Regions from separate parts of the Homo sapiens genome. Here regions 1 and 2 are each linked to region 3. Evidence: fine-mapped QTL for protein levels in blood plasma. A gene starts in region 3. Each other region holds a variant in brackets. All regions are shown on one strand. Distances are from middle to middle. Region 1 has its middle 15 kb from the start of FRZB. Region 2 overlaps FRZB (frizzled related protein). Region 3 holds the start of FRZB (frizzled related protein).

The links. A credible set is the group of variants that fine-mapping cannot tell apart. PIP is the posterior inclusion probability: the model's chance that the variant is causal. The UK Biobank Pharma Proteomics Project read protein levels with antibody pairs (Olink). The fine-mapping took linkage between variants from a reference panel, not from the people measured, so its PIPs are less certain.
Region 1: its variant is the best candidate, but not a certain one, in a credible set for the plasma level of the FRZB protein (UK Biobank, PIP 0.58).
Region 2: its variant is the best candidate, but not a certain one, in a credible set for the plasma level of the FRZB protein (UK Biobank, PIP 0.76).

Annotation. Positions count from the first base shown.
Region 1 is chr2:182,878,096-182,885,591 of GRCh38, forward strand. No RefSeq gene overlaps it. Among named protein-coding and RNA genes, the nearest start is that of FRZB, 15 kb to the left of the region's middle. The variant T/C (reference allele first, on the strand shown) is at 4,619.
Region 2 is chr2:182,829,389-182,836,884 of GRCh38, forward strand. It overlaps FRZB (frizzled related protein), which reads right to left. Exons shown (of 6, transcript NM_001463.4): 6 at 3,887-5,577. The coding sequence ends at 5,461. Among named protein-coding and RNA genes, the nearest start is that of FRZB, 34 kb to the right of the region's middle. The variant C/T (reference allele first, on the strand shown) is at 5,249.
Region 3 is chr2:182,862,563-182,870,058 of GRCh38, forward strand. It overlaps FRZB (frizzled related protein), which reads right to left and starts at 4,075. Exons shown (of 6, transcript NM_001463.4): 1 at 3,513-4,075. The coding sequence starts at 3,990. RefSeq lists an enhancer at 3,238-4,206.

The DNA of each region.
Region 1 (7,496 bases), 16 kb after region 3:
AAACAACAGAAAAAGAGGGACTCCTCCCTAGCTCATTTTATGAGGCCAGCATCATCCTGATACCAAAACCTGGCAGGGACACAACCAAAAAAAGAAAATTTAAGGCCAATATGCCTGATGAACATCGATGCAAAAATCCTCAATAAAATACTGGCAAACAGAATCCAGCAGCACATCAAAAAGCTTATCCACCACGATCAAGTCAGATTCATCCCTGGGATGCAAGGCTGGTTCAACATACACAAATCAATAAATGTAATCCATCACATAAACAGAACCAATGACAAAAAAAAGATGATTATCTCAATAGATGCAGAAAAGGCCTTCGATAAAATTCAACACCCCTTCATGCTAAACACTCTCAATAAACTAGGTATTGATGGAACGTATCTCAAAATAATAAGAGCTATTTATGATATCATACTGAATGAGCAAAAGCTGGAAGCATTCCCTTTGAAAACTGGCACAAGACAAGGATGCCCTCTCTCACCACTCCTATTCAACATAGTATTGGAAGTTGTGGCCAAGGCAATCAGGCAAGAGAAAGAAATAAAGAGTATTCAAATAGGAAGAGAGGTAGTGAAATTGTCTCTGTTTGCAGATGACATGATTGTATATTTAGAAAACGCCATCGTCTCAGCCCAAAAACTCCTTAAGCTATAAGCAACTTCAGCAAAATCTCAGGATACAAAATCAATGTGCCAAAATAACAAACATTCCTATACACCAATAATAGACAAACAGAGAGCCAAATCATGAGTGAACTCCCGTTCACAATTGCTACAAAGAGAATAAAATACCTAGGAATACAACTTACAAGGGATGTGAAGGACCTCTTCAAGGAGAACTACAAACCACTGCTCAAGGAAGTAAGAGAGGACACAAACAAATGGAAAAACATTCCATGCTCATGGATAGGAAGAATCAATATCATGAAAATGGCCATACTGCCCAAACGAATTTATAGATTCAGTGCTATCCCCATCAAGCTACCACTGACTTTCTTCACAGAATTAGAAAAACTACTTTAAATTTCATATGGAACCAAAAAAGAGCCCATATAGCCAAGATAACCCTAAGCAAAAAGAACAAAGCTGGAGGCATCATGCTACCTGACTTCAAACTACACTATAAGGCTCCAGTAACCAAAACAGCATGGTACTGGTACCAAAACAGATATATAGACCAATGGAACAGAAAAGAGGCCTCAGAAATAACGCCACACATCTACAACCGTCTGATCTTTGACAAACCTGACAAAAACAAGCAATGGGGAAAGGATTCCCTATTTAATAAATGATGTTGGGAAAACTGGCTAGCTACATGCAGAAAACTGGAACTGGACCCCTTCCTTACACCTTACACAAAAATTAACTCAAGATGGATTAAAGACTTAAACCTAAGACCTAAAACCATAAAAACCCTAGAAGAAAACCTAGGCATTACCATTCAGGACATAGGCATGGGCAAAGACTTCATGACTAAAACACGAAAAGCAATGGCAACAGAAGCCAAAATTGACAAATGGGATCTGATTAAACTAAAGAACTTCTGCAGAGCAAAAGAAACTATCAGAGCGAACAAGCAACCTACAGAATGGGAGAAAATTTTTCCAATCTATCCATCTGACAAAGAGCTAATATCCAGAATCTACAAGGAACTTAAACAAATTTACAAGAAAAAAAAACTCCATCAAAAAGTGGGCGAAGGATATGAACAGACACTTCTCAAAAGAAGACATTTATGTGGCCAGCAAACATATGAAGAAAAGCTCATCATCACTAGTCATTATAGAAATGCAACTCAAAATCACAATGAGGTAGTATCTCACGCCAGTTAGAATGGCGATTATTAAAAAGTCAGGAAACAACAGATGCTGGAGAGGATGTGGAGAAATAGGAATGCTTTTACACTGTTGGTGGGAGTGTAAATTAGTTCAACCATTGTTGAAGACAGTGTGGCAATTCCTCAAGGATCTAGAACCAGAAATACCATATGACCCAGCAGTCCCATTATTGGGTATATACCCAAAGGATTATAAATCATTCTACTATGAAGACACAAGCACATGCATGCTTATTGCAACACTATTCACAATAACAAAGACTTGGAACCAACCCAAATGCCAATCAATGATAGACTGGATAAAGAAAATGTGGCACATACACACCATGGAATACTATGCAGCCATAAAAAAGGATGACTTCATATCCTTTGCAGGAACATAGATGAAGCTGGAAACCATTATTCTCAGCAAACTAACACAGGAACAGAAAACCAAACACCACATGTTCTCACTCATAAGTGGGAGTTGAACAATGAGAACACATGGACACAGGGAGGGGAACATCACACCCTGGGGACTTTTGAGCGGGGTGGAGGGCTAGGGGAAGGATAGCATTAGGAGAAATACCTAATGTAGATGACGGGTTGATGGGTGCAGCAAACCACCATGACACATGTATATGTATGTAACAAACCTGCACGTTCTGCACATGTATCCCAGAACTTAAAGTATAATAAAAAAACTTACATTTTATTTAATTCTTTACTAAAAAATAATGAAGTCCATATAAAACAAAAAAAAGAAAAAGAAAATAAAAACAAAAATTACCCAGCTTTGGGAATTTCTTCATAGCAATGTGAAAATGAACTAATACAGTAGTTAAGTGTGTTTGCTAGTTTGATCTATTTACACAATTCTCCTTCTCTATTGGTAGTGTGTGTTTTTCTTATACACCTGGAAACAGAAAATGCCTATAGAAATATATCTGATAATTAACATAATGGTATTCAGTTTATGTAATACCTTAAAATAATCTTTTAAGATTATTTTAAGTCTATTATTATAGACTTTTCAAGCAGTCCAAAAGGTTTTCAGGGTCTGGAAGGGGAAGTGTGGGGCACATCCAAGAACCCACACTGTAGGCTCTCCCCATGTCAGTTGAAACCCCGATGATTCTGAATTTCTGTCTAATCTCCCTTTGACAAGATATAATTACAGATAATTTCTAAAACACCCTTTCTATCATCTTACTCTAGAATAGACCTACATGTTTTGCCACATCTTTTGTATTATCGTATCTTTTAAAGCCTTATTTTATTGCTTATTTCTCCTTATGGTAACAAAGGAGCAACCAAGTAGCATACAGGTCATTCCAACATGAGTTTTATGCTGCAGTTATAATGTAGACACCTAAACAACTCATTGTGACCGAGGCCTAATTAGAAACTAGCCTTAAAATGATCCCTCACAAGACAATAAATCCAACAGAACAATCAAAAGGGCTGGGCATGGTGGCTTACGCCTGTAATCCCAGCACTTTGGCATTAGGCAGGCAGATTACTTGAGGTCAGGAGTTCAAGACCAGCCTGGCTAACGTGGTGAAGCCCCATCCGCATAAAAATACAAAATTTAGCGGGGCGTAGTGGCATGCACCTGTAATCCCAGCTTCTTGGGAGACTGAGGCAGGAGAATCACTTGAACCCAGGAGGCAGAGGTTGCAGTGAGCTGAGACGGCACCACTGCACTCCAGCCTGGGCAACAGACCAAGCCTCCATCTCAAAAAAAAAAAAAAAAAGCAATAACCAGGTTAACCCTCATTCATCTATGATTTGTTAAATGTGAGTCATACCTGGATTAAGAAAATATGGCACATATACACCATGGAATACTATGCAGCCATAAAAAATGATGAGTTCATGTCCTTTGTAGGGACATGGATGAAATTGGAAATCATCATTCTCAGTAAACTATCGCAAGAACAAAAAACCAAACACCGCATATTCTCCCTCATAGGTGGGAATTGAACAATGAGATCACATGGACACAGGAAGGGGAATATCATACTCTGGGGACTGTTGTGGGGTTGGGGGAGGGGGGAGGGATAGCATTGGGAGATATACCTAATGCTAAATGACGAGTTAGTGGGTGCAGCGCACCAGCATGGCACATGTATACATATGTAACTAACCTGCACAATGTGCACATGTACCCTAAAACTTAAAGTATAATAAAAAAAAAAGAGTAAAGGAAATGAAAGCTACCATAATATAATAACAAAAAGTCAGTGCCTATGAGAGACAAAAAAAAAAAATGTGAGTCATACATCTTACGTTTAATCTGGAAGGCAAATCAGTCTCTTTCATTGATATATAAATAATGATAAAACTAACCTGCAAACTTGGCAACCACATAAAGTATTAAATCCAATGCATTTTTTTAAATCTAAACTTTTGTCTTCAGTCTTGAAGAATAAATGCTAATCAGAATGTCAGAAGTGCCTATTGAAAGATTTTTAGGGGTAAAGTAAGACATTTCAAAATAAATTAGCCAATGTAAAGGACCTACATCTTAAGATGGATCCTCCTAGTGCTCAGAGAACCTTCCCTGGGAACAGCTTTAGTACCACTATATCACTAATCAACAGATTGGCCCCACCTGGGAATCCTGACCTGCTGCTCCTCTTGCTAACCCAACAACATTAACCATCCTGTGCAATTTTTCCTCCAAGATATTTTCTAATTGAGGCCCTTATCCTCAAGGTGGCTCTCAGCTATCTATCTCACTCTTCCCATCACTGGGTAATAACTTTACCTCTGGCTAATACTCTTTCAA[T/C]CTTTCTGTCCATTCTTCCATCACAAGGAACTGAATTATTATAATGTAACTCAGGCCAGAAAAATGGGATCCACTCAATGCTAACATCCTTAGTAACTCAATAGTTAATTTAGTAGCTAGAGAATTTCCTAATTATAAGTCTCGAAAGGTGAATGCAGACATCTTGCCTTTTTCTTGGGTATATTTAATCATATTTCATAGATACAAGATAATAATTCTTAAAGTGTAGCTGTAAGAGAAGGCAAATACAAATATTTTATTCTTCCTCTGTATTTTATCTCTCTGAAATCTACGCCTTAGAAATCCATTTTTCCTTATTAAAATTTTGGCTCCTTTTTTTCATGTGATTACTCACTCATTTGGAAACAGAAAGAGTCGAAATTAAGTCAGCTCCAGAGGGTTATGCTTTGAATTTTGTAGCCTGTATAATAACAGCAAATACTTATATATTTAGGTTGGTGCAAAAGTAATTGTGGTAAAAGTAATGAGAAAAAAAAAACGCAATTACTTTTGCACCAACCTAATAGCATTACTGTGATTTATTATGTACCAGGCCCTGTTAAAGCTTATATTTAATCACCACAACTCTAAAACATAGTACCATTATTATTATTCCCATTTCGTGAATGAGGACATTAGGCCGCAGAATAATTTTCCCAAGATCCCATGACTTAATAAGAGGTCATGTCAGGATTAAAATCCAGACAATCTGGCTGCAAATTCTGTACTCCCCGTCACAACACTGCATTTCCTCTGCATGGAAATTTACTCCTTCAGTCTTAACCCAGTGCCCACTAGAAAAAGTCTGGCATGTTTTAATATAAATACCTCACCTACTAAATTGCTGCCAGTCCCTCAGATATCTTTTTTTATAACAGCTGCATTGAGACACAATTTGATTTCCATAAAGTTTACCCTTTTAAAGTATATGATTCAGTGGCTCTTTGTTTATTCACATAGTTGTGTAATCATCACCACAAACAATTTCAGAACATTTTTATCATCCCCAAAATGAAACCTCATACCCGTTGGCAATCACTCCCATTTCTCCCCCGTAACTCCAGCCCTAGACAGCCATTTATCTATCTCTATGGACTTGCCTATTCTGGACATACATATATGCCTATTTATATAAAGAGACTCATAGAATTTGTTGTCTTTGTAAATAGCTTCTTTCACTTTACATAGTGCTTTTAGGTTCATCTATGTTGTAGCGTATATCGGTACTTAATTTCTTTCTATTGCTAAATAAATTCTACTGAATGGATATATCTCATTTTGCTTATCCATTTATCAATTGATAGACATTTGGATTGTTTCTACCTTTATGGCTATTATGAATAATGCTGGCATGAACACTTGTGTACAAGTTTTTGCATTAAATATACTTTCATTTCTCTTGGGTATATACCTAGAAGTGAAATTGAAATTGCTGGATCACATGGTGACTCTATTTTAACATTTTTAGGAACTCTCAAACTGTTTTCAAGGTGATTGTGCCATTTTGTAGTCCTACTAGCAAAATATAAAAGTTCCAATTTCTCCACATCCTTGTCAACACTTATAGATACAACATTTATATAATCTTTTTTTTTATTATAGCCATCCTAGTGGGTGTAAAGTGGCATTTCATTGTGCTTTTGATTTGCAGTTTCTTAATGACTGATGACGTTGAATATCTTTTCAAATGCTCATTGGCTATTTGTACAACTTCCTTGGGGAAATTGCTATTCAAATCCTTTGCCACTTTTTTTTCTTTTTGGTCTGTGTTATTGCTAATACCTTTGCCACTTTTTAATTGAGTTACTTGTCTTGTTTTTGAGTTTTAAGAGTTCTTTATATATTCCACATACAAGTCCCTTATTAGATATATGATTAGAAAATATATTTTATCATTTTATGGATTGTCTTTTCATTTTATTAATGGTATCTTTTGAAGCACAAAAGTTTTTAATATGGATGAAGTTCAATTTATCTTTTTTCTTTTGTCTCTTGTGCTTTTAGTGTCATATCTAAGAAGCCAAGGTCACAAAGATTGGCTCCTTTGTTTTCTTCTAAGAATTCTTAATAGTTTCAGCTCTTATCTTTAGGTCTATAATCCGTTCTGGGTGAGTTTTTATGCATGATGTACGGAAGTGATTCCACTTCATTCTTTTACATGCTACTATCTTGTTGTCTCAGCACTTACTTGTTCAAATATTGTTTCCCTTATTTCATTGTCTTGGCACCATTGTCAAAAATCAGTTTACAGGCCAGGAATGGTGGATCACACCTGTAATCCATGCATTTTGGTAGGCTGAAGCAGGCTGATCGATTGAGTCCAGGAGTTCAAGACCAGCCTAGGCAACATGGTGAAACTCTGTCTCTACAAAAAATACATAGAAATTAGCTAGGCATGGTGATGCATGCCTGTAGTCCCAGCTACTTAGGGGGCTGAGGTTGGAGGATTGCTTGAGCCCGGGAGGTGGAGGTTGCAATGAGCCGATATCATGCCACTGCACTCCAGCCTGGGGACAGAGAGGGACCCTGTCTCAAAAAAAAAAAAAAAAAATCAGTTGAACATATTTTTGGACTTTCAATTCCATTCCATTAATTCCCTAGATATCTTAATTCAATCTGATGATAATTCATAAAGACCTTAACATCAAGATTGGTTTGATCTTAGGAAATGTGTCTTGCAAAGCCTGTCACCCTTGAGCAATCTCTCAGGAAAGGAAAAGAAAGACAGGAAGATTGCGATTTCCAAATTCTACCTTGAACGTACGACTGATATGAGATCAATGCAATATTATTAACTGAATGTAACAATAAATAATTTCTTGAGCCTAAAGGAAAAATATCTGGTCAAACTGTTTAATTACTGCAACATTATGATGTT
Region 2 (7,496 bases), 33 kb before region 3:
TTTTTTGGCAGAAGACTTCACCTGGAGTATCATGCATCTTTTAAAGCTTTGATATATTACTTGAGTTTTAGGTCGTAGAGAAAGTTTTCCAATAGGAATTTTGTTCATATTGATCTCTCCTTTTGCCAAGTTGTCCCACAGTTCAACTCAAATTCTTCTTTTCAGTGCTAGGACAGGAATACCATCTCTGGGAAGCCATGATTCCCTCAGAATCACCAAAATAATGTAGAAATAAAGACATTAGAGTGAACTGCATCTGCTTTATTTATTGGATTTACCACCCAGTATAAACAAGAAATCCTTTGTTCCCTGTTTCATTGACTTCTTAACATCTCAGAGCTATCCTATGTTTCAGACATCACCCGACCCACCCTTGCTGAGGCCCCAGACTATCCTAAGTCCAACCCTGCAATCATAACATCAACCTCACATCGTGATGCTAAGTGTGTGGGGAGGGAGGTGGTGGCTGTTTGCAAGAGTGGCCACAGTACCACTGTGTAATGAGTGGGGTCATTCCCCTCCACATCCCTGTGGTGAGTAGAAAATTCTTTCCCGCATTTTCTTTCATTTCTGTGTCAGTTTCCTCAACAGCCCACAAATCCTTTTTTTTTTTTTTGGACAAATTTCCTTGAGCACAACCTTTCCTTCTTCATGGGACAACTCCTCAAGTTCTCAACAACCACCTAAGTAGAAACATGACAAACGTTTGCATTTCATCGGAAGAAAAACATATTTAGTTGTATTAACATGTTGAATCCCTGTCATAGTGAAAATACTTAATGAATGAAAAGCAGGGGGAATTAGGTCAGGTGGAATAGTTTTTCTAGATTATGGAGGACTCTGGTGGTGGGAAACATAGGGGGCATAATCTAAAAAGGAGAAATGGGAGTTCCCAGTGGAAGTAGTCGTTCTCGTTTTATTTGTAATAATTATCAACTTTTAATTTCAACTTTCTTCCAGGTGTTGTTGAATACAATTAACTGTTTACTTTTCTACAAATTCAAGGGAAAACAGAAACCTTGAAAAATGCTTTTCTGAGAGTCACACATTTTTAAACAACTAATGCCCCCAAAATTACTTAATTCACCTGCCTGTCTGTATGGAAATAATTCTACTGAAATTCTGATTTCATAAGGGAGGACACCTGAAGATGTGAAGTGACTGTATCTTGGATTAGAGTTGGGCCTATATTATATAGGCTTTCTAACATAGTTGGTAGACCTCAGTTTAAGAAATAATAGCTATTGTTATATTTATATTATTATTTATTATAATCCAATAATAGCAATAGCTACCACTATATGCCTGACACTATGCTTTTTCTTTTTTTACAGTGCTAGGATGCATTTACCTTTTTATCAGAAATTGCAGTGGTGGAAAACATATAATTTGGGAAATAAGATTATGAGGATCTAAGGCCCAGCTCTGCTACTTACACAACTCTGAAGTTCTAAATACTCATTTAAAAAAAAAAAATCTGTTATATGGGAATAAAACATCTACTTCAACAACTTTCAAGGAATAAGTGAGGTAACATATGCACAAGTGTTTCATATAGAGTTCCAGCCACTGTTAGATGTTATTACCCCAAACAGATAATTATGAAAGGTATGACTATACTGTTTTTGTTAATATTAATACATCTGGGTACCATACTTTTAAATTTTATAGGCTGGATTTCAGTAACACCATATTAGAAGTCTCTGCTTTATTTTTACCATCTTCTTGAATTTTTGTGTATTAAAATATGTTAAAACTCAGTGCTAAATGTCAATCTTGAAATACCTTTAGTCATTTTACTTGTTGAAATGTAACAGCAAATAATTTCTTGCAGAAGGCAATAGGTAGTGCTATTTGCTCACAGTGATTATAACTTTTGTTTTTGCCTTCTTAATGTGTAACACATGTGGAAAGACAGTTTGTCTCACCCCATCCCTGAATGCTGGGTGCAACATATGGCACTGAATCAGATTACATTGTATGTGACACAGTAAAATACATATCCATGAAAAGAGAATCCATGTTTGCTGCTATTTAAGTATTTGCTACTTTATTCAGCATGCATCTGACTTTAATTTGGCTAAGAAAATTAAAATCCTAAAGTTGAATAAAATTTTTTAAAGAAATATAAATTTTATCAATCTCAAGGTTACTGACAAGGATGCATGTATATTAAATTTTTAGTGGCTTTAAAAGTTACTATCTGCAAGAAAACCCTATAGAGAGGCATTAACGAGGTGTCTTTGTACTATGGCAACTAGAGTAGAAATGGTTTTGCAGTCTCCTGAGAAACGTGACCATCATGATAAATCACGCCATCCTCCCAAAAGAGGTCTGCACAGTTTATTAATGAAGATATTGTAGCTATCAAACTGAAAAACCAAATGTACTTTATTCATGGGCTTTATACCATTAGAAATGTTTAAACAGCTGACAGAAGCCTCATATAGGTGAGCAAAATCAAACATTGCCACTATAGATGGTAGTGGTAAAACAGTAGGTTGTAAAATGGCACCGAATGGAAGGTGGTTTAAAAAAAAAAAAAACTGCTGAATCTAAGAATCTGGCCGTGTTTTGTTTATATTAAGCATAAAGTGTGTCAAATTCCTACACAGAAACTGATCATACCCCCTTTACCCAACCCCCACCCCCCAAAAAAAACTGCAGAAGCTGGAAACATCTGCAGCTTTTATACATCAAAAGAGTTCCTTACTTAACATTGCTTACTGTGCATTGAGAGAGTTGAGGTTTGTGGATTTGAGATAACGGTTCCTTTAAACCTCTCCTGTAGTCAATTCTTGTCCTTCTTTACAGAGTTAACGTGAGAAAGCCTGAGGAAAACAGGCTGAGGCACCAGCACTACTTTCCACCCCTCTGTCCTCAGGCTCAAGTTGAGGCTTACATACCAGGAAGAGAGATTCTCAGGGGCAGTCCATCCACGGTGGCGCTTCATTACTCCCCAGTGACACCCAACTCACCTTTTAAGGGTAGGACATCAGCACCTCAAAAGAGATGTCCTTGCCATCTGAGAATATAGCAACAATGGGCAGATGGCAAGCCCTTTGGAAGTGGTCTTTTGGAAGCTCAAAAGACTATGCAGTCCTATAGGCAAAGGTGGGAATGTTTTCTTCTGGGGCTGGGGAAATTGTTGGCTTTGGAGAGTCAATCAGAAGGCAGGAATGTTCCCTTACTCTGTCACCTTTAAATATAGGGAGATAAATCTCCAAGTAAAGGGTTTATTTGGGAATATAAGAATTGGAATTGTAATTCTGGGCACACAAACCAGTGTAGCCTCTAGTTGTGTTCAAAGAACAAAGAGAAAGGCTGGGGTTTTATTGGGGAAGAGAGGAAGGTGATCTAAATGGTTTTGAATGAAAGTTCACTGGAGCCAGGCGCGTCTTGTAGGATCTAGCAAGTTCTGATTGGTGAGTGGCAGCAGCTAGGTAACTTTATCTTAAGGTTAGAGTTAGGTCTTCGTGATTTTTCTGTTGAACTGCAAAAATGGTTCCTGGAACAGGGACCTGGGTGCCTTTCCCCATGGCCTCCCGACTCCATTTTAGTTGGGTATGATATGAGTGACTCCAATTTGTAGAATGAACTTTCACACTTTTGTTGTTGTTACAGAGACAGGGTCATGCTCTATCGCCTACGCTGGAGTACAGTGGCCGCAATCATAGCTTACTGCAGCTTCAACCTCATGGGCTCTAGCCGTCTTCCTTCCTCAGCCTCCCAAGTAGTGGGGATTACAGGTGCACTCACCACACCCAGCTCACACTTTTAAAATAGAACATTTAGATAGATGATTATTTACCATTTTAGGAAACTTTTGTTCAGGAATGAATTTCATCCTTGCTTGATTATCCTTGTAGAAGGAAACATAGCACGATTTTTGCTTCATAAGCATTTTATTTTCAGCACGCCACAGCTTAGAAATTTGGTTCTACTAATAGCACACATGTAAATGGCAGAGAATGAAACTTTCAAGTAATTGGCACAGGCTCTAAGGAACTCTGCCAGAGGAAGGAAGTACAGATGCTCCGCCATTTACGATGGGGTTACATCTGGATAAACCCATTCGAAACTGAAAATATCGTAAGTTGAAATGCATTGGGTTACATCCTGATAAACCCATTGTAAGTCAACAAATTGTTAAATTGAAGCATTGTAAATTGAATCATTGTAAGCTAGGGACCATCTATAAAAGCATCATTTGTTCACCACAGCCCCTGGGATCTCACCACAGCTTGGGTAATGAGAAATGTGCAATTGGTTCAAAAGTCGAAATAACCTCTCTCCTGACAACCATAATTCATTTTACTAGACATTTTTCGCTGAGCATTAAGCAGCACAAATCCAAATGATAAAGTGCAGGCCAGTTTGCAGGCCTGTATTTTAATCCACCTTGGGTGTGAGTGCAAGGACACACATGTACACAAATACAGACACACACACAACAGAAAAAACAAAAACAAAAAAACCTGCATATTTTATCACTCTGTAATCTACAGCATTTTTATGGAGCCATGTACTTTTAAAAACTAACCCTGGTGCACGTGCATACATAATCTTTTCCTGGTCAATACGGCAATTCTGATTTATTTTAAAAGAAGAGAAAAAAAAAGACTTTCACCAATGGGTTTATTTAAAAGGAAGCAAATTAAACAAAACTATGGTGATAACAGCAGATGTCTAGTTATAATTCATTTCTCTAATGCTGATTAATATATTCATGAACAAATCAAATGTATTGCCAAAAGAAGAATGCTACCATTAACACCCCAGCGGCTACTGGTTTCAGTTGTGCTTCTCAATCAGGCAAAATGTTCTTTCTTAAGCTCCTATTTATTTTACTTCCTGACAGTCTCAAAAATAATTCATCTTGGGTGTTGTTTCCTCATAAACACTTCCTGGTGCTTGATTGCTTTGCCTATGTGACATTTGACTTCAAACTGCCATTTTACCTTTATAAACATTTGGAACTTTCTAAGCATGAGGAGAATGCCCAAAAGGCATACAAAAATAAGGCTGTAATTAGATCGGCAGAGTATGTTTTAAGGCATATCTAGCTTTCTGTGAATACCAGAAACCTCTCTTTTCATCCAATATTGCATTCCCAATTGGGGTGCAGAAAGTAAATTAACATCTGGAGACTCCAGCAAAGAGGCTCTGGTAACAGCATGTTTAATTTATTATTATTGCAAAAGAACAGTTTTTCTCATGATTAGTGAAATAGAAAACTCACAATATA[C/T]TTAAGAGTCTGCCCCCAAACCATTACAAAGGGGTTGAGAGAAGAGAGAAGCAGAAACCAAAAGAGAAACAGAAGTAATAATCAGTTATCACATGATTTTTATAGTAAACAATAGAATATGATGTGCAATAGTGCAATTTTCCTTTGCTAGTCCAGCAATGCAAGTAAGTCTTAATAGGAAGTCCACTGTGTTACTTTTTGTATTTCGGGATTTAGTTGCGTGCTTGCCGGGGGTTCGAGTTCCTGCCAGACTTCTGACTCTGAGTGGAATCACTATTGCTAGAATCACTTTTACTGAGTCCAAGATGACGAAGCTTCATATCCCAGCGCTGTGAAATTTAAAATAGAAAATAGTCACAAGCACATATCACCAGGGTCATTATTTCCATGATTCTAACAACTGGGTCAGACTGCAAGTTCAGATCTCTGAAGCATTTTGCTACTTTTCCAAAAGTATCAATCTATTTCCCAGGGTAACAAGAAAACTGATGCAATATGAACATTATTCTCTGACTTTAACAAGCGCAACATCTATAATGTATTTAGTAATGCTTTCTTATCAAACCTTAAACTTAAAATGTCCATGTCTATAAATGATGACAGAAATATCTCCCTATATCTCTGGGTATTTCCTGAGGTAACATACAGGAGGCTAGTGCTTCACAGATACTCAACAAATGGAAGATTTACACACAGAATTTGAAGGGAAGGCTATTTTTCAACATCCTCTCTTAATACACATAAGAACATAGCCTTTTAAAGTCTATGTGATTTGAGCAGTGAAAAAAAAATGGAAATTTTTTTGAGGGATGGGGGGGTCTCAAAAATATTTTTCTAAGTAATATCCACTAAGTACAATGAATAAAACAGACAAGGTCCTGCCCTCGTTCTAAGTGTTACAAAGCAGGTATTAGCAATGTTTTTAATAAACACAATCAAGTTTAGTAATATTTCATATTAACAATGTCAATAATATTTTCATGTAATTTAAGTTAAATGGAAGTTATATTACATGAGGATAGGTAGGGAATACGAACTACAGCTGTACTTCCCAAACTTCAAACACGGATATCATATGGGGAATTTGTTAAAATTGCAAATTCTCATTTAGCAGGTCTGAGACAGGGCCGAAGATTTTCATTACTAACAAGCTCCCAGGTGATACCTATGTTGCTGATCCAGGGACCACACTTTAAAGAGCAAGCACCATCAGATCCTTGGGTCAGATGGCCCAAGTTCAAATTCTAACTCCACCACTTACTGTGTGAAGTTTCTTGAACTTACTAGACCTCATTTTCATCATGTATATGTTGGAACTGATAATAGAATCTACTTATAAGTAGATACATCTGAAGATTAATAAAAATATAAAGTGCTTAGCACATAGTAAATGTGTTATTGTTTTTCTGTTACTGAAGGTAATTCTTCATTTCAGTATTCTTTACTCCACAATCTTGTCTTCATATTTTAAAAACAGTCTGATTCTCAACTTCCCAAGGAAGTCCAAACATCTTGAATCGTCTGCTATAAGAGACTTAGGTAAACAACCATTTGCATGAAAAAAACATAATAATGTTTCTTATAAAATTATTGATTCATCCACTGAGAGCAAAACTCAGCTAAGAGCAAATCTGATTGAAAAAATAACATCCTCCATAAAACTCTTTTTACACATCTTCAAATTGACTGGAAAACTAAAATAGGAATCTCAATAATTCTGGCCAAAGGAGATTTTCTACCCAAACTCTTTAGCCCTCAATATCTGCATATGAATTTAAAATTGTTCAAATTATTGGTTTCTTTCCTTTAGAATATTTAAATCCAGACTGAGAATATAAATGACTTTACAATAATAACTCTGCAAGTCCCCTGCGGAAAACAATGGGAAATATTGCAGAAAGCAATGGGAAACAGGACAAACAAGCCATGTGTCCTGTCAACAACACAATGATATTGTTTTGGTACCAAAAGAGGAGCAGTAAGCCTTGTTACATGCTTCGCAGCAGGGATATTGAAAGCTTTTCCAACTGGTACAGGAATTTAGGACAAATTCCAGTTCTGCATTAGCAAGCAGAAAACCAAATTAAAGACAGTAAGAGATTCCAACATACTGAACAAGAGCCACTTTTTTCTTTAATAAACACCAAACTAATTGAAGAGAGATGCAGAGAGAATGCCCGCAAGTCTGAACTTGAAATGCATCTCCCTTTTGACAAATCTACTAAAGGGGAGAAGAACTTACTGGAGG
Region 3 (7,496 bases):
TTTTGTTTTGTTTTTCCCCAGAGATGAACTAATAAAAGTTCTAGGCTGCATCTGCATTTACCAACATAACCATTTCAAAAACAAAATAGAAAATGTTAGTCAATTTGTTTTAACAGTGATAATAGTAAAACAGCAGCAGCACTTTTTTCAGTGCTTACTAAGTACTAAAGCAATGCTTTATATGCTGTTTAATTTCTTTTCTTTTCTTTTCTTTTTTTTTTTTTGAAACACAGTCTGGCTCTGTCGCTCAGTCTGGAGTGCAGTGGCGCCATCTCAGGTCACTGCAACCTCCACCTCCGGAGTTCAAGTGAGTCCCTTGCCTCAGTTTCCTGGAGTAGCTGGGACGACAGGCACGCACCACCATCCCAGGCTAATTTTTGTATTTTTAGTAGAGACAGGGTTTCACCATGTTGGCCAAGCTGGTCTCCAACTCCTGACCTCAAGTGATCCACCCGCCTCGGCCTTCCAAAGTGCTGAGATTACAGGAGTGAGCCACTGCACCAGCTTTAATTTCATCTTTACCATGCCCTTGGGATGTAGATAGTTTTGTCCTAATTTTACAGATAAGAAAACTTTGAATTACAGAGGTCATATAATTTTCCTATAACAATAGTTGATGTCGGGGCAGAGTCATTCACACCTGGTCTGCCCCACTCCAAGCCTATCCTCTTTACTCACCACACAATATTAAAGATTTGACTGAATGTCATCACTAACTTGCTGAATGACTCAATTGAGCTGAGTTTTCAGATAATCAGTTGTACATGTAGTCACACAAAGTTATGCAAATATAAAATGTGTAAGATGAATAATAATGGTCAGGATGGAACCCGTTCTTTTCAAAAATATGATTACCCTTAGTATTTTGAAAGCAAAAAGTAGTTTCAAGCATTACTCCATTTCAGTAAGACTGCTTTGTAAAAGGTCCTAAGCTTGTTTGTGGAGTCATGATATACTATGAGAGAACAGATCCCCATGAATGGGTAGGATTTGAAAATCCTCTTGGCATCAGAAGAATGTGAAAGATTGTCCTATTTTATTCAGGGAGACCTCATTTTTATATCTAGTTGGACAGATACTAGTCAAAAGACACAGGGATTCTGTTTATACCCAGTTGAATAAGAAAAAAACCTTGCTTTGTGAACTATCACTTCCCACTGAACCAAAGAGTATATTGGATATTGCATGGTAAATTACACTGGCCACATGTGGTAGTTCCTAAGTAATTCCAGGTGTCTGACAGTTTGACCCAGCATAGGGAATGTAATTTTCAACAAGCTGGCCCTGGAAGCCAGGAGACCCTTCAGGCTACAATCTACACACTTCATTCCCAATTTCCACCTCCCCCCACCTTTGAGCTCCCCTTGCCATCATAGCCTCTGGTTCACACTGAAGCTTATGGAAGGGAGCAGGGATGCCATCACTAACTATGATTCCAACTACCACCTATTTTTCTAGCAAGGATGCTGCCAGTAAAGCAAATACTCTGGCATTTTAAAGAAGCTTAGAAATCAGGTCCCATGAACTGACAAATTGTTTCCATGCATGTCCTATTTGAGTGCTTCAATGAGGCAACTGTTTCCATGTTTGTTCCACAGTGATTGGTAACTCAGGGACACTTAATGAAACTGCTTCCTATCCATATTGACTATGGCTTTTTGAGAGCCATTAACCTTGCCAAACCTCACTCACTCTAGGTCCACCTCTAAGGGAGGTTTAAGAGCAAGTTTTGTGCTTTACGGGGAGGAATGCATTTCAGCCTGAACCACTGCCACCTCATTCCTAGCCCTTGGCCTGAGAGGAGCACCTGCATTTAACTGATTCTAAGTGCCTGGCAAACCAGAGCGGCAACTGCACTGAGCACTTCCAGACTCTGCAGTCTGTGACTTTAGTGAGTACGAAGCCTCAAGCATGCTCTTTTAGCAAAGATTAATAGCAAATACATTTCTGTGATGATTTTGCACAACTAGCTTTTGGTTCTTGATTAAAATCAAGAAGACAATAGGTATATTCAAAAAGTGATAAACTAAGTGAGGTCACCATTAAAAAGTTCTTGAAATTCTTCTGTTTATTTTTTTTCCTTCAGCTATTTTTACAATTACTTCTCCTTCTCTCACTTTGTTAAATGAGTCAACGTGCACAGAAGGTAATTTTTCCAAATCAATTTCCCGATAACTAAGAATTACTACCTGGAAATGGACTGGGGACATGCGCCTAGACTGCGCAAGTTGAAAGAGGAAGGAAAGTTGATGCCCAAGAAATAAACAGATGGAGGCAACCAAGTCAACACATCTAAGAACAGAGTTGTTGGGGGGTGGGGGATGTGGTATGAAAGAGGACCACTCATGAAAAAAAATTGCCTTCTTTATAAAATATATGAAGGGTAAAATTTGAGGTTGGGTTAGTTGGTAGAAGTAATACTGAGTTAGAATTAAATGGACCATAATGAAGTAGGTTTAGTTGGGGTCTTAAAGTTACAAATGTCATAATTAGACTAAACACTAGTGAGAAAACAACTTGTGATTGACTCCATTAAATTTAGAGCTGCAATAAAGTTTTATGGTAGGGAAAGACTGAAATGACTGTGGTTGGTGCACACACGGAAAAGGAGCATGAAATAAGGTATTAAAGACAATTTTTTTTTCAAAACATGAGAGTGGAATAAGGGGTGAGATTTAAAATAACATTACGTGAGTGTATGATAACACGCCTTAAATATAACTCCTTTCATCTGTATGCCACTTATAAAATGACTTGAAGGCATGTGGGCATGTGAAAAGAGCTCAGTAATTTCAGTCTGCCAGCTCTATGGCAAGCCACAGAAGCTAATTAACAGTGCATAGCAATGTTTCACAATTGTTTCATTCTGGAATGGAAGAACAATTTATCTCATTGAAAGGAGGGGGAAATTTAAGGTGAAGGTAATTGCTCAAACTGGATCTTGAGCAAACACATACCCCTAACATCTGTCGGTTAGAGTAAGGTTATTGAAATTATCTTGGCATTTTTAATTAGAAGAAAATGGGGCTTCAGTTTTCTGTTTCCTCCACACAATCTTAACAAGCATCTAAGACACTAAAGATACAGAAACCTGATGACTGAGATTGCCTGAGAATCAGCAAAGAAAACCCAATGATTATAAACACATTTTAAAAGAAAAAGAGCATCACTTTACAAAATGTGGCTACTTGCACATGTAAGGAGTTGAAGTGAAGGATTCCTGTGGAGTAGAAGTGTGATGGGTTTGGAATGCATGGATTGTTTTAGAAAGATCGCCTATTGGAACACAGTGCCAGAGTGCATCAGTTTGGAAGGTGATAAGGTGAGGGTTTTTTTGTTTTTGTTTTTGAAAAAAGAAGAAAGAAGAAGAAGGGTCTTTGATAGAGGAGCAGTTATGGGAGAGATTAAGTGATCCGAAGAGAAAAAAATTAGAGAGTAAAGGCTAGTAACAAGGACTCCAAGAATTGAGGAGGCTGTAGGGTAAGGGAAGGGTGGGCCGTGTCAAAACTCACCAGCTCCGTCCGCAGTAACGATGGCCTCGGGAGAGATGCACACGCCCCTGTCGTACACTGGCAGCTCCTCGCAGGCCAGGTTCTCCGGCCACGAGTGGCGGTACTTGATGAGTATGGGCTCACAGCCCTGCCGGGCCCGCTCGCACACAGACTTACAGGGCTTGATGGGCTCGTGCTGGAAGTCAATGGTGCAGATGGGCGCGTACATGGCACAGAGGAAGAAGAGCAGATCGGGGCTGCAGTGGGTGCCCAGCAGACCTTCGAACTGCTCGATGGCCAGGATGGCGTTGGCCTGAGTGCTGTGGTGCAGGTGGTTGGGCATCTTAGTCATGTTCCAGGGCAGGGACTTGCACAGGGGGATGCGGACGGGCTCACAGGCTGCAGCCCGAGCCCCGGGCACCCGGAGCAGGCAGAGAGCAGCCAGGGCAAGCAGCCCGGCCCGCAGCAGCAGCATCCCTCCCGGGCTGCCGCAGACCATGATCCCGGCAGGATGGGGCAGGGTGCAGCCGCGCAGTGGACGCCAAAAGGCCCGCTCCGCCGTCTCCGCCTCCCCCGCTGCAAGTGGACACAAGGATCTGGGAGCTTCTCCTCCCCCGGCAATCACCGCTTCCTTGGATCAAATTCCCCCAATGGGGTCCCACGAGCTTTACCGAGCTCCAGCCACCGCCCCTGCCGCCCAGGCTGCTCTTTCCCAACGTCTAAGCCTTCGGAAGCAGCAACATCTATTTATTCCTCTCCCTCTGGCAGAAGCATCAGACTTCGCAGATCAGTCAGATAAGAGGGACACGAGAGGAGGCGAGGAAGACATAAAAACAAAAGTAGAATTCAGCTGAGAGCTAGTTGGAGCTCTGGGGTGTCTCCTCCCCTAGATCACGCACACAAAAAGATGCTAAAGAAAGCATTAAATTCCCCAAAGTGAGGAGGACAGAGGGGTTGGGGGGAAGGAGGGAGGAAAAGCTCCTAATGGGAGAGAAGGGTGCAGTAAGAGTTTACAAGTCCTGTGTGGGCTAAGAGCTGCGGCCGCCGCTGCGGCTGCGACCCTGGCTGGCAGGAGGGACGCTCAGGAGGAGCCCCGCAGGGACGTCTGTGCCTCTGCCCGGGCGGCTCTGCACTTTCCTACCTCCCGCCTGAGAGGGAGCTCCGCCCCTGGGGCAGTCTCTGCCCTCCAGTGCCGGCTGCTCTTCCCGAGAATGGAGTGGGCGCCCGGGGAAGAGAAGGCCTGGGAGTCGCAGGCGGTGGGGTGCGAAGCCGTGCGAGTGCGAGACCCCAAGACAGCGCCGAGTCGAGCGCGCCCTCACACTAGGGAACCCGTCTTTGGCCCCAGAAACGAGCCCCTAGCCCCTCACTGAAGAGCCCACCCCAATTCCCTACGGAAAAGTCCCCCTAGTTCCCCACTTGGGAACCCACCCGAGACCCTCCTTCCTGGAGGTATTTCCTTTAAGCAAACTACAGCTTTTCCTCTGCAATCACTGGCTCTGCAGAAAGTCAGACCTGGTGGGGGGAAAGGCTTAAGCAATGTCACTTTGTCCAAGTAGCGGAAAACACAGACCCCTGCGAGCAACGGTGGAGCCATATCAACCCAGAGCTAGTGACTACAGAGGTCTCCATTTTCAATAACTGCGGGGGAGGAGGTGGGGGGAGGATTGCCTTTAAAAAAAAAAAAAAAGAGAGAGAGAAACAAAGAAATGCTGTTCATGACTACAAATAGGCCACCAGAAGCAAGGAAAAGGGGTTTTTTCCTTCTATTCCCGCCCCCCCCACCTAGTGGAATTAGAACTCTTGAGCTTTGCTCCTTAAGGGTTAACGTGGAAACTAACAGCTCTAATACACTTGGACTTTTTTTTTCTGATTTTGCTCACGGATAACATGGCAGATATTATTTGTTATTCTCAGCAACAATTCTGCCCGACACTTAAAAAAAAAGTGTAGGAAAACGACATCACGCAGGTAATAATGATGATTATAACAACAATCAAAACCTTTCCATCCAGATGAGTTCAATCTGGAGGAGAAAATGGAAAACAGATCCCCTCCTGGTCTGCTTCTTCCACTAATGAGCTCCCTCTTCCCCCCACCCCCGCCCCACTCTACCCTTTCAGCTTATATTGTAAATGGAATGACCTGCAGAGGCCTTCACACTATGCCCTCTCAATGGGAAATCACTGAGCAAAAGGATTGCCGAATGTCAGAAAACACAGCCTTCATTGAGAGGAGAAGGAAACAAAACCTGAAACAAAACAGGAAGTCACCTTTGCTCTGCATCACTGAAATATTTCTCTGCTTCAATTTAGCCATCTCTCACCGTCCATAACAAGCAGAGAAATATGTCCCCACTTCAGAGCACATAGTGAGATGCTCATTTTCATTCCCTAGAGTGACTTGACAGCACTTATAAAATGTCAATGCTAACTTGAGTTATGGAATTTTATATCTAAAATGATCATAAACAGCAGTTTGTGACTGCTGTAAATTTTTTTGGAAGGAAGTTTGTTCCACTTATGGTGGCGGGGGCGGGGAACACCAGATGGTAGACAGGGAGTCAGTTAGTATACAAACTTTGCCTGGTCTACAATTATCTAGTGTCATGTAAGAGAACAAATTCAAAAATTGTACAAACGAATTTAAAATGATTTATCAAGTAAAATTTAGAGGAAAAACAACTTTAAAAGACAGTCAACATTAGAACATTTTGGGACTATTTTGTATAAGAAAAATATAGCTGAGATTTTCAATAATTAGAAGAAAAAACATCAGGAGTAGATGTAGTAGATTGTTTGCTAAATACATTTTTCTGTTCATCTTAAGTCTTACAGTGTGAGAAGAAATGTGCCAATAGTTTTAAAGGTTCTACAACTATTTGAAACAAAGTCTGTTTTCCTTCCCCTGCACAAAAGTCAGCTATCTTCTTTGTCTAATAGGTCCCCTTACAACTTTAATCCAAATTTGTTTTTATAAAAGCCCAAAATAAATGTCACTGTCTTGAGGAAGCCCTTTTGAGTACCTTGTCTAGTTGTGTTCATTTTTCTGGTTAGTTACCCTTGAACAGTGTTTGTTTTTACAAATTATTCCTTTATTTATTTATTTATTTATTTTGAGATGGAGTTTTGCTCTTGTTGCCCAGGCTGGAGTGCAGTGGCACTATCTTGGCTCACTGCAACCTCCACCTCCCGGGTTCAAGAGATTCTCCTGCCTCAGCCTCCCTAGTAGACTCACAAGCTCCCCACTTGTGAGTCTCCAAAGTCTGTTATACCTCTCAAAGATATGCCTTCTTGTACCCATAGCTTTGCTCTCATTTATAAGTGAGAACATACAGTATTTCATTTTCCATTCCTGAGTTAAATCACCTAGTATAATGGCCTCCAGCTCCACCCAAACTGCTGCAAAATACATTATTTCATTCTTTCTTCTGGCTGGGTAGTATTCCGTGGTGTATATATACCACATTTTCTTTATCCACTCATCATTTGATGGACATGGACACTTAGTTTAGTTCCATATTTTTGGTTGATGGGCACTTAGTTTGGTTCTATATCTTTGCAATTGTGAATTGTGTTGCAATAAACATATGCATGCAGTTGTCCTTCTGACAAATTGATGTCTTTTCACTTGGGTAGATACCCAGTAATGGGATTGCTGTATCAAACTGTAGGTCCAGTTTCGTTCTTTGAGAAATCTTCACACTGTTTTTCATAAAGGTTGTACTAATTTACATTTCCACCAGCAGTGTATAAGCATTCCCTTTCACCACATCCACACCAACATCTATTGTTTTTGTTTTGCTGAGACGGAATCTTGCTCTGTCTCCAGCCTGGAGTGCAGCGATGTGATCTCAGCTCACTGCAACCTCCACCTCCCAGGTTCAAGTGATTCTGCTGCCTCAGCCTCCCGAGTAGCTGAGACTATAGGCACGCACCACCCTGCCCAGCTAATTTTTGTATTTTTAGTAGAGACAGGGCTCACTATGTTGGCCAGGCTGGTCTCGAA